Regions from separate parts of the Homo sapiens genome. Here region 1 is linked to region 2. The links come from fine-mapping of genetic effects on gene expression. A gene starts in region 2. The other region holds a variant in brackets. All regions are shown on one strand. Distances are between the middles of the regions.

Evidence for each region. PIP is the estimated chance that this variant, and not a neighbour inherited with it, causes the effect. A credible set is the group of variants that fine-mapping cannot tell apart.
Region 1: its variant is the best candidate, but not a certain one, in a credible set for the expression of PLEKHM2 in whole blood (TOPMed, PIP 0.88).

What each region holds. Positions count from the first base shown.
Region 1 is chr1:15,416,508-15,424,507 of GRCh38, reverse strand. The region is part of intron 1 of EFHD2 (EF-hand domain family member D2); the gene reads right to left. Among named protein-coding and RNA genes, the nearest start is that of EFHD2-AS1, 8.1 kb to the right of the region's middle. RefSeq lists silencers at 6,194-6,313, 7,201-7,495 and enhancers at 7,864-7,953, 7,702-8,000. The variant G/T (reference allele first, on the strand shown) is at 4,327.
Region 2 is chr1:15,678,980-15,689,709 of GRCh38, reverse strand. PLEKHM2 (pleckstrin homology and RUN domain containing M2) reads right to left here and starts at 5,390. Exons shown (of 20, transcript NM_015164.4): 1 at 5,092-5,390. The coding sequence starts at 5,151. RefSeq lists enhancers at 4,407-4,466, 9,326-9,826 and silencers at 4,697-4,766, 5,287-5,366, 5,457-5,536, 10,529-10,730.

The sequences.
Region 1 (8,000 bases), 260 kb after region 2:
CACTCTCAGGTTCTCTTTTTTTCTACCACTAACAACCTGGCAGAGACAGGGGTGGGGTTGGGGGCAAGTCCCTCTTGACTGGCTTCTGTGTAGTAAGAGTCTAGGTGGCCTTTCTGCCTGTTGCCTGGCTGGGAAGGCACCACTGGTTCCTGGAGCACACAGCCTGGTGAAAGAGGGCGAGGCGCTGTTTGCCCAGCTGGGCTCTCTTATCAACCAAACACCTGCCCTACTGGTCTCTGGGAACAGCGTAGGAGGAAGACAAGATGGGGGCTGGGGAGAGTGATCCCAGAGTTGGTAACATGGGTTTTTCTTTTTTTTTTTTTTCTTTTTGAGACGGGGTGTTGCTCTGTTACCCAGGCGCGATCACAGCTTACTGCAGCCTCTACCTCCTGGGCTCAAGCGATCCTCCCGCCTCAGCCTCCCAAGTAGCTGGGACTGCAGGTGCATGCCACCATGACTGGCCAAGTTTTGTATTTTTTTTGTAGAGACGGGGTGTCAATATGTTGCCCAGGCTGGTCTCAAACTCCTGGGCTCAAGCAATCCTCCTACATCAGCCTCCCAGAGTGCTGGAATTACAGGCGTGCACCACTTTGCCCAGCCAAAATGGGTTTTTCTGCACCTAAAGAAGGCTTGTGCAGTCCCCCAGGCCTTGAACTGGCTGGGTGACAGTGCTGGTGACAGCAGCGCAACACAGGTGGATGTGTTCCAGAACCCTATGTCCCGGGCGCTTGAGCTTCTGCATGAATATGTCTCATTTCTGCACCTTCTTACGGGCTCCCCAGCTCCTTTCGCCTTCTCTAGTTAGGTGTACTTTGAACACCTAATAGCAACCATGTACTGAGATCTGTCTTTATGCTGGGAACTGCTTACTTTACTTAATTTTCCTAATAACCTTATTTTATGACCAAGGCTCAGAGAGGTTAAGTGACCCACCCACAGTCACACAGCAGTAAGGAAGGAGCTGGGCTTCCAGACTTGATCTGCTGGGCTCATAAACTTGCACATTTGCTCTGTACCCAGCCCCTCCCCAACGTGTCCTGGGGCTGCTGCAGAACACAGACGGCTGCCTGGAGCACAAGGGGAGCATTTGTGCGAGGGGTATAAATAGTTCACGAGCCAGTGAGTCAGTGGTTGAAAGTGACACAGCAAAGATGGGTCTTGGGAGCCCTGGAGGGAACACAGGGTCCTGCGGCTTCTGCCCCACTGATGGATGAGGGTTGGGGTGGAGGTGGATGGGCCAGCAGCCCCTGTGGGCAGTGGCCACCTCTGTGACAGTAGAAGGTGTGGGACTCAGAGGGTCAGGCAGGCCAAAGCTGCTGTGGTCCAGCCTCCACCTGGAGCTGGAGGGGTTCTGGGGGGCACAGCGGAGGCGCCTCCTGCCATCTCTGGTCCCTGTTTGCTGCCTGGTAGAGGGCTGGGCGGGCGCCACATGACCGTGGGGCTGTGCAGGAGCACCTGGTGAGGGACTCAGTCTTTCCTGAGCCAAGTCACGAGGACTCCCCTCCTCAGTGCCCCCCAGGAAAGCAAAGCCCTGCCGCTTTCTGACCCTGGGCTCCCAAGGTCAGCGATGACAGTCAGGCTCTGAAGCCAAATTGCCTGGGCTCCTCAGCCACAAAATGCAGCATCTCTTTTTATTTTTATTTTTTTGAGACGGAGTCTCGCTCTGTCGCCCAGGCTGGAGTGCAGTGGCGCAATCTTGGCTCACTGCAAGCTCTGCCTCCTGGGTTCACTCCATTCTCCTGCCTCAGCCTCCTGAGTAGCTGCGACTACAGGTGCCCGCCACCACGCTCGGCTAATTTTTTGTATTTTTAGTAGAGATGGGGTTTCACCGTGTTAGCCAGGATGGTTTCGATCTCCTGACCTCATGATCCGTCCGCCTCGGCCTCCCAAAGTGCTGAGATTACAGGTGTGAGCCACCGCACCTGGCCAAAATGCAGCATCTCTTAAGCTGGGGTGCATGTGCCCCCCAGGAGACATCTGGCAATGTCTAGAGGTGTTTTTGGTTGTCATACCTGGGGCGGCGGAGGTGGGGGGGATGCCAGTGGCATCTGGTGGGTGGAGGCCAGGGAAGCTCCTATAGCGCATAGGGTGGCCCCACCGCAAAGAATGACCTGGCCAGCTGGGCACGGTGGCTCACGCCTATAATCCCAGCGCTTTGGGAGGCTGAGGCAGGCAGATCATGAGGTCAGGAGATCAAGACCATCCTGGCCAACATGGTGAAACCCTGTCTCTATTAAAAATACACAAATTAGCTGGGCATGGTGGCAGGCACCTGTAATCCCTGCTACTTGGGAGGCTGAGGCAGGAGAATCACTTAAACACAGGAGGTGGAGGTTGCAATGAGCTGAGATGGCACCACTGCACTCCAGCCTGGGCGACAAAGCAAGACTCTGTCTCAAAAAAAAAAAAAAAAAAAAAAAAATGGAATGACCTGGCCCCAAGTGCCAGTGGAGCTGAGGCTGAGAACCCTGCTGCAATGGGGCCTCTCTCATGGGCCACTGTGAGGAACGACTGAGCCCATCCCTGTCAAGCACTCAGCACAGCTCCCAGCGCACAGAGCTAGCTGCATAAATGGCAGTCACCACCGCTAAAACAAGATTGAATCACCGTCACTAAACTCCCAACGCACCAGCACTTTCTCTTTACAATCCCTGTGCTCAGCAATCCTCCAGGTCCGGATTAGGTCAGGAGGGCTGTTGGTGAGGCCACAGGTCCCATAACCAGCAGGTCAGGGGTTCACGCCCCAGCCCCTGGGTCCCACGTGTCTCTCCCTGAGCCCCAGCTTTATTTATTGCTCAAGTGCATGGGTTTCTTCTGCAGCCAGGGGCAGCTCAGTTTCAGAGGAAGTGCAGATAAAGTGTCCAAACTTGGATGGAAACGTGGGCTGTGGATCCCTCTGTCTTTGGCAGCTCCCAGGCCTGGCTGGGCTGTGGCTCAAACCATGATTTGAACGGCCGCCTCTATCAATCAAAGGCCAATCAATTACTGGGGCTGGGCTCCATCCAGGGCAGGCTCTGGCCCCCAGGGGGACAATACAGGGGCTGGCTGCGGTGCCAAAGAGTCCATCACCAAGAGGAGGTGACGGGGGCTGCGAGAGGCCAGGTGCTGGGGTGGGCGGTGAAGCCCCCAGAGGTAGCCGTGGAGGAGGCCATTCCCAAGAGACTCCTGGAGAGTGGCCATCTGCCCTGTGCCCTGGGCTCTGATGTGGTCTAGTGCAGGGGATCAGCCAGGTTCCAGGGTCAACCTGATTGAAGATGGCCTTGAGGGTTTGTGGTTACATCAACTCCGCTGAGACTGACCTGGGTCCAAACCCCAGCTCTGCCACCTGCTGGCAGAGTGACCTGGTCAAGTCACCTAACCCCACAGACCTCAATTTCCTCATCTACATCATGGAGATCAAAGAACTCATCTCAGGATGGAGGCAAGGATTAAAAGAGACGATACAAGCAGACTCTTGGCACAGAGCCTGGTCCACAGGAAGCACTTCATACATGCCTACTATGATACTAAAAACCAGTTATTATTATTCCTAACATCTACCTTTAAGATTATTAAAGAGTAAATGAGGCTGGACGTGGTGGCTCATGTCTATAATGCCAGCACTTTGGGAGGCTGAGGATCACTTGAGCCCAGGAGTTTCAGACCAGCTTGGGCAAGATAGGGAGACCACATCTCTATAAAAAAATAAAGGGCCAGGTGCGGTGGCTCATGCCTGTAATCCCAGCATTTTGGGAGGCTGAGGCAGGCGGATCACGAGGTCAGGAGTTCGAGACCAGCCTGACCAACATGGTAAAACTCCGTCTCTACTAAAAGTGTAGAAATTAGCCAGGCATGGTGGCACGCACCTGTAATTCCAGCTACTCAGGAAGCTGAGTCAGGAGAATTGCTTGAACCCAGGAGATGGAGGTTGCAGTGAGCTGAGATCATGCCACTGCACTCCAGCCTGGGTGACAAAGTGAGACACTGTCTCAAAAAATAAATAAATAAATAAATAAATAATTAGCTGGGCGTGGTGGTGTATGCCTCTGGTCCCAGCTACTAGGGAGGCTGTGGTGGGAGGATCACTTTAGCCCGGGAGGTTGAGGCTGCAGTGAGCCCTGATCGAGCCACTGCTCTTCAGCCTGGGCAACAGAGTGAGACCTTGTTTAAAAGACAAACAAACACAAAAAAGAAAATGAAAATGAGCTGACAGATATAAAATGCCTGGCACATAGTGAGTCCTTCAAACCTGTTAATTTCATCATCATCGTAATAGTAGTTGTTATATTGAGAAGTTTGTGTGTGTCACATATGCACATCATATACTTCACATATACAATATAAAAA[G/T]GGTGATGATATTAGAAATAATGATAAAAAACACACTGGCTTCTGCCACAGGCTCCAGTCCTGACTGGTGGTACAGGGTTGGGAGGCAGGGCTTGTGGTGGCTTGGCCTGGAGGCAGGGGTGGACATGATGACCCAGGGGATCCCTCCAGCATGACCTCTCCTCTAAAGGCCCACTTTTCCCCTACTAGGCCCGACGCAAAGCCCCAGCATCTCTGGGAGGTAGGAAGACAGAAGACCGCTGGACAGAGCCCTTGAACAGGGAGAGAGGAGCCTCAGGGAGCGAGGAACCTTCCCTCGGGGTTGGAGAAAAGTGAGGAAGGGGCTACTCTCATGGTGCCAATGTGTGTGTGGGACAACTGGCAGCACAGGAGAGAACGAGGTTCCACGATGGCTGGAAACAGGCATCTCCTGGGCTAGAGGGCCTCTCACCCACCAGCCCTTCTCCCTGAGCTGGAACTGAGGTTGCAGCTGGCTTAGAGGATCCAGAAAAAGAGAGATCAGCCCGCAAGATCCACCCAGATAGCCTGGTCTACCCGTTTTACATTATGTAGGGAAACTGGGGCCCACAGTGGGCAGTGACTGGCCCAGGGTCACACAGCCAGCAGACTGCAGGATTCCAACAGCTGGAAGTTTTTCTCCTCCCTGGCCCCTCTCTTTTTCCTGGTCCCATGGAGGGTCCCACATTCTCAAGCTTGCAGGGCCAGTGGAGGCTGGACTGAGAGCCCAGCTTGGTGCCTGTTTGGGAAGGCCAATGCCATTCGGCAGTACTGGCAGAAAGCGCCCAGCCTGGGAGCTCAGCACTTTTCTCCAGCACCGGAGGGAGGCTGCGGGGCCTGGCACCGTGCCCGCATTCCTATCTGCCTCCCCTTGAATAGTTCTCGTCAGGGAGGGCTCAGCAGCTAGCTGCACCCTGGATGCTGGGGACAAAATCCCCATCCATCCCCCTCTCGAAAGCGGAGCAGCCAGTTACCCCCCAAGGACGACCCTTTCCCTTTGGGGTGAGCATGGTCCCCAGCTGGTTGCTTCCCTGCCCCTGCCCCTCTCCCCAGTTCTGATAACTAGGGAGTCACAGGGGTAGGCAGTGGAGGCGTCAACCATGCACAGTGCAGATGTCCCAGCCTTGCACCCAGGTGAGCCCCACGTCATAATCTATCATCATTCCTGGCTACTCTGCTGAGCACTTGCTATGTGCCAGGCACGATGCCAGGTGTTTTGCATCAGATTCTCACAAGAAGCCTATGAAGCGGCATGAACATGAACCGACAAGGAGACTGAGGCTCAGAGGGGAAGCGACTTAGCCCAGGTCATAGGTGACAAGGGTGTCGCTGGGCTCTGAACCAGGCCTGATCAAACACATGCACTCTTAACGACTATGCTATGCCCTGATGCCTATCAGGACACAGCAGAGAACTTCGGGGTTGGGAGGGATATTAGAGGCCATCTTATTCAGTCGTTCCTGAAAATCAGATTCCTGATGCAGTTCGTTGTTTAGTGCCTTGAATACCTCTGAGGACAGGAAGCTCATTGCTTACTTAAGGGGGGGCCTATCTTGGCTTTGGAACTATTAGAAAGTTGCGGCCGGGTGCCGTGGCTCCCGCCTGTAATCCCAGCACTTTGGGAGGCCAAGGCGGGCGGATCACAAGGTCAGGAGATTGAGACCATCCTGGCTAACACGGTGAAACCCCGTCTCTACTAAAAATACAAAAAATTAGCCGGGCGTGATGGTGGGCGCCTGTAGTCCCAGCTACTCGGGAGGCTGAGGCAGGAGAATGGCGTGAACCCAGGAGGCGGAGCTTGCAGTGAGCCGAGATCGCGCCACTGCACTCCAGCCTGGGTGACAGAGCGAGACTCCATCTCAAAAAAAAAAAAAAAAAAAAAAAAGTTGCTCCTCGACCAGGTGCAGTGGCTCACGCCTGTAATCTCAGCACTTTGGGAGGCCGAGGCGGGCAGATCACTTGAGGCCAGGAGTTTGAGACCAGCTTGGCCAACATGGTGAAACCCTGTCTCTACTAAGAATACAAAAATTAACTGGGTGTGGTGGTGCATGCCTGTAATCCCAGCTACTAGGGAGGCTGAGGCAGAAGAATTGTTTGAACCCGGGAGGCGGAGGCTGCAGTGAGCCAAGATTGTGCCACTGCACTCCAGCCTGGGTGACAGAGCAAGACTCTGTCTCAAAAAAAAAAAAAAAAAAAAAAAAAAGAAAAAGAAAGAAAGTTGCTCCTCGTGCAGGTGCCCCCAAGCTGCACTGCACAGTCTGATGGCAGAAGGAAGCAGAGTCATTGCAAAAACTGCACACGGGAAGGTGGGAGCACAGGGACCCCAATTCTGTCTCTCCTGACTCCCATCCCAGGCTTTACTGATGGCCGCTCTGGGCGTGCAGGTCCCAGGAGAACAGACAATTGGACAGGGTGGGTGTTGGGTATGGGCTCAGGAGCCCTCAGGCCCCCCTGGCTTCCCCAGTTCCTGCATGTCCCCACCCCCAGACTGCCTGACTCATATAGGGAAAGCCCAGCGCTCACCACTTCCTCTAGTCCTATCTGGGAATCTCACACTTGATCTCTTGCCCTAGTTCAGCTAAGTGGGGTATGGGGTTGGGGGAGAAAGAGAGAGAGAGAGAGACGGAGAGATAGAGAGCACATAAGTGTGGCGCTTGGGGCTCCCCCACGGAGGATAAAGAGGGAGACCCCAAGCAATTTGCTGGGGGGCTGTCAGGGCTCAAAGGCATCCTAACCTGGAGTTCAACAACCTCACACCGCACCCACGGCACTCCCTGCCAGCCACCCCCTTTCGCTTCTTGCTCTTCATAGTCATTATTGTTATGATAGTGATTATAAAGAATATTTATTGAATGCCTAATATTAACATAACCCAGTGTTTATAACGTAACTTAATCTTTACTCCATACATCTTATCCTCTTACAGCTCAGACAAAGTCACCCACCTAAGGATAACCTTAGGTCAACCTCAGGAAGTGGTGGGGAGACGGCTGTGCGGGGGCCTGAGCCGAGGCTTAGCGCTTCTTAAACGTCAGTGTGCACACCTGGTGAAGCTGGTTACAGTGCGGATTATGGGCTGGGCGTGGTGGCTCATGCCTGTAATCCCTGCACTTTGGGAGGATGAGGTGGGAGGGTGGCTTGGGGCCAGGAGTTTGAGACCAGTCTGAGCAACATAATGAGACCCCATCTCTACAAAAATAAAAAAAAATTAGCTGGATGTGGTGGCATGTGCCTGTAGTCCCAGCTACTCAGGAGGCTGAGGTGGGAGGATCACTTAAGCCCAGGAAGTTGAGGCTGCAGTGAGCTATGATCGTACCACTGCACTTGGTCTGAGTGACAGAGCAAGACTCTGTCTCTTAAAAAAAAAAATTGCAGATTACAGTCTGGTAAATCTGGGGTGGAATCTGAGCATCTGCATTTCTAACATACTCCCGGGCGGTGAAGCTGCTGGTGTTTGGGCCACTGTAAGGGTTCAGAGGACTTGGAGCCGGGGAGGCCCAGGTTCAAATCCTATTCTGCCCCTCACTGGCTATGTGACTTTGGACAAGTCACATAACCCTTCTGAAAGTCCAGCCTCCTTAACTGTGAAATGGGCGAGGATAATGTTGCAGGATAAGAAAGGACTGAACGGGAGGCAAAGCATCTGGTTTGAAGTGTCTGTGGCTCAGGACTCCCTG
Region 2 (10,730 bases):
CACAGAGACGCTTGCAAGTAGTAATGGTGGCTTTTATTTAGGCCTGACTGTAAGCAAGGTATTGTGCTAAGTGCTGTAAGTGTGTTCTCTCATATAATTGAATTATCATTATAGCATTAGTAGAAGGTTCTCACTGCTGATGCGAACAGTGGTCCAGTCATCTGCCAGGATCGAGATGGTCAGTTACAAACCCAGACCCAAGTCTGCATACCGCTGAAGCCTGCGTTTGTGTCCACTAGGCTACATGGCTTCCACAGAAAGCACCTTCCAGCCGCATCTTGCAGAACCCTTGGCAATCTTAAGACAGGTCCCTCTTAAGACAGGTCACGCCTGTCCTCGGAAGACCATCTGGAAGGCCCCACTTCCTTGGGGATGCCTAGGCTGTTTCTTCTGTCTTGAATGCCTGCTTCTTCTCTTTCTCTGAACTCTACCAGTATTTCTTTCTTTCTTTTTTTTTTTTTTTTGAGACGGAGTTTCGCTCTTTTTGCCCAGGCTGGAGTGCAATGGTGCCACAACTCACCACAACCTCCGCCTCCCGAGTTTAAGCGATTCTCCTGCCTCAGCCTCCCGAGTAGCTGGGATTACAGGTATGCACCACCACACCTAGCTAATTTTGTATTTTTAATAGAGATGGGGTTTCTCGATGTTGGTCAGGCCGGTCTCGATCTCCTGACCTCAGGTGATCCGCCCGCCTCGGCCTCCCAAAGTGTTGGGGTTACAGGCATGAGCCACCGCGCCTGGCCAGGAGGTTGCTTCTTATGGCATATAGTCTTTGCTCATTCTGCAGGCATATGCAGCAGACACACCAGCTCCTCAAAAACAGAACTTGGGAAAATCACTGCCTGCCTTCCCTCCCCTGGAGAAGATGTTATTTAGTAGAACCACATGCTGATTCAAAAATGCCAAAGCTGTCGTTGACTTGGACATTTCTCTTTAACAAATCGGCAACCACAGGCTTTACTGGCAGCATCTGGGATGTTTCTGCTACTAGCTCCCTTTCTAGAATTGAATATGAATTGAATTTGCTATTGTTATCATTTCCTTTTTTTTTTTTTTTTTTGAGACAGAGTCTCCCTCTGTCACCCACGCTGGAGTGCAATGGCGCGATCTCAGTTCACTGCAACCTCCACCTCCCAGGTCAAGTGCTTCCCTGCCTCAGCCTCCCAAGTAGCTGGGACTACAGGCACGCGCCACCACACCCAGCTAATTTCTGTATTTTTGGTAGAGATGGGGTTTCACCATGTTGGCAAGGCTGGTCTTGAACTTCTGGCCTCAAGTTATCCATCCACCTTGGCCTCCCAAAGTGCTGGGATTACAGGCGTGAGCCACCATGCCTGGCCTATTGTTATCATTTTCATTTAATCATGTTAATTATTAAACTCTCCAGTTCTCTCTCACCCTCAGGAATTCTGTGTCCATATCAGAACACAGGTTGCCTTGGATTCAGATGGATTAACAGCTGTTTCACCTGTCTGGTGTTATAATGGGTATTCACCATCACAAAATCTAAGTGTGAAAATAGTTGAACTCAACAATACTCCTTGGGGATAGTGGTTGCTTTGAGGGTGTAGTTTCTGGGAGGGGAACGAGGGGCCCTCTGGGATAATGGTCATGTTCTGTTTCTTGGTCAGGGTGCTGGATATGCAGGTGTTTTCACTTTGTGAGAACTCATTAAGCTGTCCGCTCAGGACCTGTACACTTTCCTGTAGGCATGCTTCATTTTCATAAAAAGTTCTAAAGTACTCTTTGCAAATATAGAAATACACAATGGATCTTTCCTTGCAGAAATATGCATCTCATTTTCTTCACGTAAAATCCTTATAAAATGACCAGTAAGACCATTTACTGGTGGTAGGATGCAAGAAAAAAGGCAAAGCAACTCTCAAGGTGCTATATAACACATTTAGGTGAGACTGGCATTCAAGGACAAATCTGACCCCAAGACTGCTGTCCTCAATGTCTACTGCTGTAGCCAAACTAACAGGTTCCTAGTAAAGCAGACACTCTGATTCAGAAAACCAAATGTAATTTATGATGCAAGAATCACATCGCAGTTGTCTCAAACAAACACACAAAGGAAGTGGCTACCAAGAACAAATGGTGTTGTAGAACGACCTTTAGGTGGTGAGGCAGTTGAGCCATCTTCAAACCTTGTAAAATTGAGGAATGGGCTCTTGCACAAAGAAAAAAGCTACCAGTTAAGACTGGGCCAGGATCCATGCTAAACACTCTACATGTTTATTAAAACTTCACCATGCCTGTAATCCCAGCACTTTGGGAGGCCGAGGTGAGCGGATCATGAGGTCAGGAGATCGAGACCATCCTGGCTAACACGGTGAAACCCCGTCTCTACTAAAAATACAAAAAAATTAGCCGGGCATAGTGGCGGGCGCCTGTAACCTGTAGTCCCAGCTACTCGGGAGGCTGAGGCAGGAGAATGGCGTGAACCTGAGAGACGGAGCTTGCAGCGAGCTGAGATCACGCCACTGCACTCCAGCCTGGGTGACAGAGCAAGACTCCATCTCAAAAAAAACAAAAAACAAAAAACAAACAAACAAAATCTTCATAACACAGCCTGACCAATATGGGCGAAATCCCATCTCTACAAAAAATACAAAAAGTAGTCGGGCACGGTGGCTCATGCCTGTAATCCCAGCACTTCGGGGGGCCAAGGCAGGCAGATCACTTGAGGTCAGGAGTTCAAGACCAGCCTGGCCAACATGGGGAAACCCCATCTCCACTAAAAATACAAAAATTAGACGCTGGGCGCCGTGGCTCACGCCTGTAATCCCAGCACTTTGGGAGGCCGAAGCGGGCAGATCACAAGGTGAGGAGATCGAGACCATCCCTGGTTAACATGGTGAAACCCCGTCTCTACTAAAAATACAAAAAAATTAGCCGGGCGTGGTGGCCGGCGCTTATAGTCCCAGCTACTTGGGAGGCTGAGGCAGGAGAATGGTGTGAACCCATGAGGCGGAGCTTGCACTGAGCGGAGATCAGGCCACTGCATTCTAACCTGGGCGACAGAGCGAGACTCCGTCTCAAAAAAAAAAAAAAAAAATTTAGCCGGGTGTGGTGGCGCACACCTGTAATCCCAGCTACTCGAGAGGCCGAGGCAGAAGAATCGCTTGAACCTGGGAGGTGGAGGTTGTAGTGAGCCGAGATCACACCACTGCCCTCCAGCCCAGGCAACAGAGCAAGACTCTGTCTCAAAAACAAACAACAACAACAACAACAACAAAAAAACACTCCACAACATCCCTAATTTTATCCCTGCTTTACAGATGAAGAAACTGGGCATGGAGAGGTTAATAAGCCTGACCAAGGTTACAGGGTTATTAATTTGGCAGGGCGGGGATTCAATCAGGCAGCTGGACTCCAGAATCCATGCTCCTAACAATGATGCTGCCCATGGCTTTGGTTGTGATACACCCAGGGATGGGTTTGCAGTTTCTAGTGTGACATTTTCTGGGGTGCATTCCAGCTCAATAAGTGTCCTTGTCCAAACACCTACAATTATATGCACCTCAACAAACACACCTAACTCATAAGTGACAGCCTGACTTACAAAGTGAATCTCTGCCTTCAAAAGACTCATGCTTATACATGTGACAGCGTGCCCCATGTCTACTGCCTCTCCATCACAGACTTTCTCCATTCATTTGTTTGAAATCCAAAGACAAACGCCGGGCCTACCTAAAGCCACAATCAGCCCAGATTAGATTAGAAAGGTCACCTGTGTTCCTTTCTCTTCCATTAGGAAAGATGTACTGCTTCTCAACAAAGTATTTGCTCATCCTGCCCTCCTTGAGTAAGCAAAAACCATACCCCATTACATTAGCAAAGCTCAGTAAAACTACGTAAAACTCTTGTTGGATCTCTGCAATGTTACTTTAGCTGTGCTTTTAGAGGAATGTTTTCAGTAAGGGCAATTCGAGAATCTATTTTCTTTTTAAGTCACATTTATCTTTATGAAAGGTAAAATAGCTTGCCTGTGTTGCTTTTGAGGAATCTCAGTGGGAAAACAGACAATTATTTAAATATGATGGTTGATCTAATTAATTCTATCCATTTTGCTTCTTCAAGTAAAATAAGCTGCTGAGTCCCTCACCCAAGCCATTTTCTTTCTCTTTTTTCTTTCTTTCTTTCTTTTTTTTTTTTTTTTTTTCAGTTTCTGAGACTATCTGGTGAGCCAGGAATTCAAATTACACAAACACACACACAGAGAGGGAGAGAGAGAGAAAAATCCATTCTGATTTGGCCATTTAGGTTTTCAGTGAATATGGATTCTTTTAAATTTATTATTATTATTTTTATATCCAGCCCAAAAACGTCAGAATATGGATTCTACCTTCTAGCACGGACCCTTTTGCGGATATGCCAACTTCATCACAAATACATGCCCTTGACAGGTATGTACTCATTTCTACCTGGAATTGGGACAGTGATGTTTACTGCGGCAAGCCCCACAGCAAGGTGTCTGTGGTGTCACCCGGTTCCCCGGATCAGCATCCAAAATGCAATCCCCATGTACTTCAGGTTCTTATAATCAAAGCCCCTAGTGAACCTCTTCAAAGCTACCATCCTTGAGCAAGATTATTCAGGGGACTTCCCAGGAGCAGAGGCAATGTCGCCGGGACCCAGGCCATGGGAAAGTGAAGTTGCTTATCACTGGCCTCCACCCTGACTGCCAGACCCTGGGCGACGCCAGCCTGGCGGGGGGACCCGGGGATGCAGCGGATTCCACAGGAGGCTGCATGGGGTTCCTTCAGGAGCTCCCGGGGGCGCCGCTGCCCCAGTGGGGGACCGGAGGGTCGCTGACCCCTCTCCGGGAGGGCAGGGCCCCGGGCCAGGTTTGGGGAAGCTCCGAGGATGCTGACCTCAACTTTGTTCTTTAAAAATAGCTCCGAGGCCGCGGCGCTCACGTGAGCGGCGCCGCTTCCCCTCTACCGGCCCGGGGCTCCCGGCCGCTCGTCGCCCCCCGGGTCGCGGAGGGGAAGGGCGGGGGGCCCCGGCCCGGGAGAGCGCCGCCGGAGGGCGTGGGGGGCGCGGCGAGGAAGGGGCCCCGGCCGGGAGGGAGGCCGCGCTCACCTTCTTCACCGACAGCGAGATGTTCTCCAGGATCCGGTCCTTCACCTCCCCCGGCTCCATGGCGCTGCCACCGTCGCCGCCACCGCCACCGCCACCGCCGCCGCCGCCCCGCCGCCGCTTCCCGCGCCGGGGGCCGGGGGCCGCCGCCAACCGCTGCCGCCGGCCGTACGGGGGCTCCGTCGTGCCGGCCGCGGGGCCCGGCGCCCGCCGCCCGGCCCTCGCCTCGCCTGGGCCCTCGCTCCACCGCGGCCCGGAGGCTCCGGAGCGCGGCCGGCGGGGAAGGAGGCCGCGGGCTGTGCGCCGCGGCGGCGGCGGCGGCAGGAACTGATGTCAGGCGGGGCGGCGCCAGGGCCCGCCTGCGCCTGGGGACTCCGGGGACCCGGAGACCCGCACAGACCCTTGGCCGCGGCCCTCCCCAGAGACCCCGAGACCCGCCCCCAGCCCTCCTCAAGTCACAGACTCTCCCCGGCACCCCAGAGACACCCTCAGACCCCAGGGACGCCAGAGACCTCGACCCCGCCTGCCGGGGACCTCGGGGCTCCTCAGAGACCCTCCCCAAGCCCTCCTCAGCCCACAGATTCCTTCAGGGACCCCAGAGACACCCTCAGACCCCAGGGACTCCGGACACCCCGACCCCGCCTGCCAGAGACCCCCACAGACCCTGGGACCCCGGCCCTCCTCGGAGACCCTCCCCCAGGCCTCGTCAGCCCACAGATTCCCTCAGGGACCCCAGAGACACCCTCAGACCCCAGGAACTCCGGAGACCCCGACCCCGCCTGCCCGGGACACCGGCCCTCCTCAGAGACCCTGGAGACCCTCCCCCTCAGCCCTCAGGCCATAGACTCCCCCCTGGGACCTCAGAGACACCCTCAGACTCCAGGGACTCCGGAGACCCCAACCCCACCTGCTGGGGACCCCCACAGACCCTGGGCCCCCAGCCCTCCTCAGAGACCCCCAAAGACCCCGAGGCACTGGCCCTCCCCAGAGACCCTGAGACCCTCCCCACAGCCCTCCTCAGCCCACAGGATCCCCCCACAAAACCCCAGAGACTCCCACAGGCCCCAAGGACTCTGGAGACTCCGACCCCACAGGCCAGAGACCCCCACAGACCCTGAGACCCCGGCCCTCCTCAGAGACTCGAGACACCCACAGACCCTGGGCCCCCTCCCGCCGGCCCTCTTTAGTCCACAGACCCCTCCTTGGAGACCCCAGTGCACCCCACTAACTCTGGCCAGGGACCCCAAGACCCTCTTAGCCTGCAAGCCCCACTTATCTTCCTCCCCTTCCTTAGCCCAGCCACCCCCTCAATGTGCAGACCCAGGCCCCCTGGCTTTCGCAGCCTGGAGGACCCAGCACCCCCACCGGGTCAGCCTAGACTCCAGTCCCCAGCCCTAGACCCTCCCTGGGCCCCCTGGCCCTCCACAGCCTCCCCTCCTCAGTGCCTCACCCTCAAGGCCCAGTCCTACATTTGAGGTCCCTGGTGTTCCTCCCCACCCCCAAAACACACCCTCCTCACCTTCAGCCCCAATGCCCCATTCCCACTCCTTATCCTTATCCCTCTTCTTCAGCCCCACGTATCCCAAGGGCCTCAACTCCCTCAGCCCCTGAAACCCACCGTAACAACTCTCTTCCCACACACCCTCCTCAAATCCACCATCTCATAAAGCCCCTGCACTTAGAGGTGTCAGTCTCCTACCTGGCTCTCTTCCCTCCTTAAGTTCCCAAATAAATATATCCTGACACATAGATTAGTCCCTCCTTTTTATTCTCAGACACCCCAGTTCTCAACTCTGGTTCCCTGGTCTTCCCTCTTCTCTGCTCAGGCCACCCCATCCCTGAAGTCCCCTTAGCATCTGAAATACTGATTCATTGCTTATCTCAGAGGGACCCCACAAGCCTCCAAAGGTCGCTCCCCAGCCCCTTAGTTTCCCAAGGAGAGACCCAAAATAGTGGTACTTTGTTTTTTGTTTTTTTTGTTTTGTTTTGTTTTGTTTGTTTTTGAGACAGAGCCTTGCTCTGTTCCCCAGGCTGGAATGCGGTGGTGCGATCTCTGCTCACTGCAACTTCCGCTTCCCAGCTTTAAGCGATTCTCCTGCCTCAGCCTCCCGAGTAGCTGGGACTACAAGTGCATGTGACACCATGCCCAGCTAATTTTTTTTTTTTTTTTTGAGGCGGAGTCTCGCTCTGTCACCCAGGCCGGAGTGCGGTGGCACAATTTCAGCTCACTGCAACTTCCTCCTCCCAGGTTCAAGTGATTCTCCTGTCTCAGCCTCCCCAGTAGCTGGGATTACGGGCGCCTGCCACCACGCCCAGCTAATTTTTTTGTATTTTTAGTAGAGACGGGGTTTCGCCATGTTGGCCAGGCTGGTCTTGAACTCCTGACCTCAGGTGATCTGCCCGCCTTGGCCTTAAATTATTTTTTAAAGACAGGGTCTCACTCTGTCACCCAGGCTGGAGTGCAGTGGTGGGTGTGATCATAGCTCACTGTAGCTTGAACTCCCTGGGGGATCCTCCCACGTCAGCCTCCCCAGTAGCTGAGAGTACAGAATAAAATACGCCCAGCGAATTTTATTTTTTGTAGAGACAGGGCCTCGCTCTGTTACCCAGGCTGGTCTTGAACTCCTGAGCTCAGGCCATCCTCTTACCTCAGCCTCCCAAAGGGCTGGGATTACGGGCATGAGCCATCATGTCCAGCCCAGGGCGTTTTCTTATTTGTACTGAGTTCAGGAAAGCAAGAGATAACAGCCTCTTTGGAGTTGTTATCTACCTCTCATATTCAGAGAGCAGAATAAGAACAGATGAGGGTTGAGACTCCAGTCACTGGATAGGTAGAGAAAAGGTTGAGGACAGAGGACACATTACTTTGAATGAGGAAATAAATAGCCAGGTATCTATGAGTAGAAATAGCCTCCTACTTACCAAAGGTGTTTGTGGAGTCAGAATTGCGCACTTCCTTCCCACTCCATCCTGGCTAGGGTGCATACAGGCCCCAACCTGCTGGATGCAGCTCTGGTTCATGAAAATGCAGTCCCCCAAAACTGACCCAACAAGCTTTGGGATTCTTCTCTGCTGTTGAATAGCAGGCCATCTTCTGCTGAGCACTGCGTTCTGCTGGGCACCTCCTCCCTAGGAATGGCTGATCATGGCTTGGGCACATGGTACACTCAGTGGGTATTTTTATTCCTTGGCTGTATGCCTGGGGCGTCCACTTGGTCTGTGACATAAGAAGGTGGTGGCATTTCTGCCATATTGTTTTTATCTGCATGTATTGGGAGATGGTCACATTCAGCATTTTACAACATTCAGAGGAATGTAAGGTCTCACTGTCTACCAAATTCCTAAGGTTTGCATAGGTATGTGAGCTGGTACAACAGACATTGTTATCTAACAACACTTCTTGCAGGAAAGAGGGAGAGGCCAAATGTGCATTGATGTGCAGCTAATTGCTCCTTGTCCAGAGTTCAAATATGGAATCCGTTCTGCGTGTCAAACACAGGGCGAGCCGGGCATGGTGGTGCATGTCTATAGCCTCAGCTGCTTTGGAGGCTGAAGAGGGAGGATCTCTTGAGCTCATGTGGCTGCACTCCAGCCTGGGTGACAGAGCAAGACTTCACCTCTTAAAAAACCCCAAAAAGCAAACCAAAAAAAAAAGGGTGACTCTGAAAAACACAAGATACTTATTTGTTATTGGGAGTCACTTAAGCTGGAAATTGAAGCTCATTCATTTATTGCACAAGACTTTTCTGATCTCATGAGAAGTGCATGGGACTCTGAGTCAAAAGGCAACAAGAATTAAAAGCCTCAACTGACTCATGCTAGGGCCTCAGGCAAGTCACTTTGCCTTAATTTCCAAATCAGTGACCCAGGAAAAATGATTCTATTCTTATTTTTTGTTGTTGTTGTTTTTTGAGATGGAGTTTTACTCTGTCGCCCAGGCTGGAGTGCAGTGGCTCCATCTTGGCTCACTGCAACCTCCGCCCCCCCCGGGTTCAAGTGAGTCTCCTGCCTCAGTTTCCCAAGTAGCTGGGATTACAGATTCCTGCCACTGCACCTGGCTAATTTTTGTATTTTTAGTAGAGTTGGGGTTTCACCATCTTGGCCAGGCTGGTCTCGAGCTCTTGACCTCATGATCCACCTGCCTCAGCCTCCTAAAGTGCTGGGATTACAGGTGTGAGTCACCGCGCCCAGCCTGTTGTTTTCTGAGACAGAGTCTCGCTCTGTCACCCAGGCTGGAGCGCAGTGGCGTGTTCTCAGCTGACTGCAGCCTCTGCCTACTGTCATAGCATTTAGAATACAGTCCATACTCTTTTCTCTGGCTTCCAAGGCTGATCTGATCCAGCCTCCCTCCCTGACTCATCTCCTAACTCTCCGCTGGTGTGTGCCAGCCCCACCAACCTTAGTTTCTCAAGCATGCTGGTCTGTTCGCATCCGAGGGCCTCTAGCTATTCACCCAAATCTGCTCTCTCTGGCTGCGTGTGATGGCTCACGCCTGTAATCCCAGCACTTTGGGAGCCCAAGGTGGGACGATCACTTGAGCCCAGGAGTTCAAGACCAGCCTGGGCAACAAAGTGAGACCCCCCATCTCTACAAAAAATCCAAAAATTAGCCAGGCATGGTGATGTGTTCCTGTGATCCCAGCTACATGGGAGGTTGAGGCTGCAGTGAGCCATGTTTGCACCACTGCACTCCAACCTAGGCAACAGAGCAAGACCCTGTCTCAAAACAAAAGCCAAACAACAAAAAAACAAAATCTTCTCTCTCTTTACACAGTAATAGGGTTGTAGCCAGGCAGAGTGCTGCACTACATTTCCCAGCCTCCTTTGTGACACGCACAGCTATATGATCAAATCCTCTCAAATAGAACATGAACAGAGAAATGTGATCCATTCCTAGGCTGGGATTCTATGCAAATTTCCTCTTCCATGCTGTTTCTTCTTCTACCAGTGCAATGAAGCCAAGGGGATGTCAGACATATAAAATATAGACACCCTAGTTCCCTGAATCACTGCATGGAAGAGAGCTGTCCATCAACCTAGAACAGCTGCCTTGAGCTGTAGCATAGAAAGGGCTATGCTACAGTTTCTTTTTTTCTGATTAATTTTCTGATTAATTTCTTTTTTCTGATTAATTTTTAACTTAATTAAAATGCAGATAAAGTTTTTAGCTGGCCATGGAAGTTAAAGGACAAAAGACACTGGGTGCAGTGGCTCACGCTTGTAATCCCAGCACTTTGGGATGCCGAGGTGGGTGGATTGCCTGAGGTCAGGAGTTCAAGACCCCAGCCTGGGTGACAAAAAATAAAAAAGAGAGAACTAAGGACAGATGTAAGGTTGCTTCTCTTTACACCTGATGATACAGTTTGGATATTTGTTTCAAATCTCATGTCAAAATGTAATCCTTAGGCCAGGCACGGTGGCTCATTCCTATAATCCCAGCACTTTGGGAGGCCAAGGCAAGCAGATCACTTGAGGTCAGGAGTTCGAGACCAGCCTGGCCAACATGGTGAAACCCCATCTTTACTAACAATACAAAAATTAGCCAGGTGTGGTGCACGTGCTTTAATCCCAGCTACACCGGAGGCTGAGGCAGGAGAACCACTTGAACCCAGGAGGCGGAGGTTGCAGTGAGCTGAGATCGCG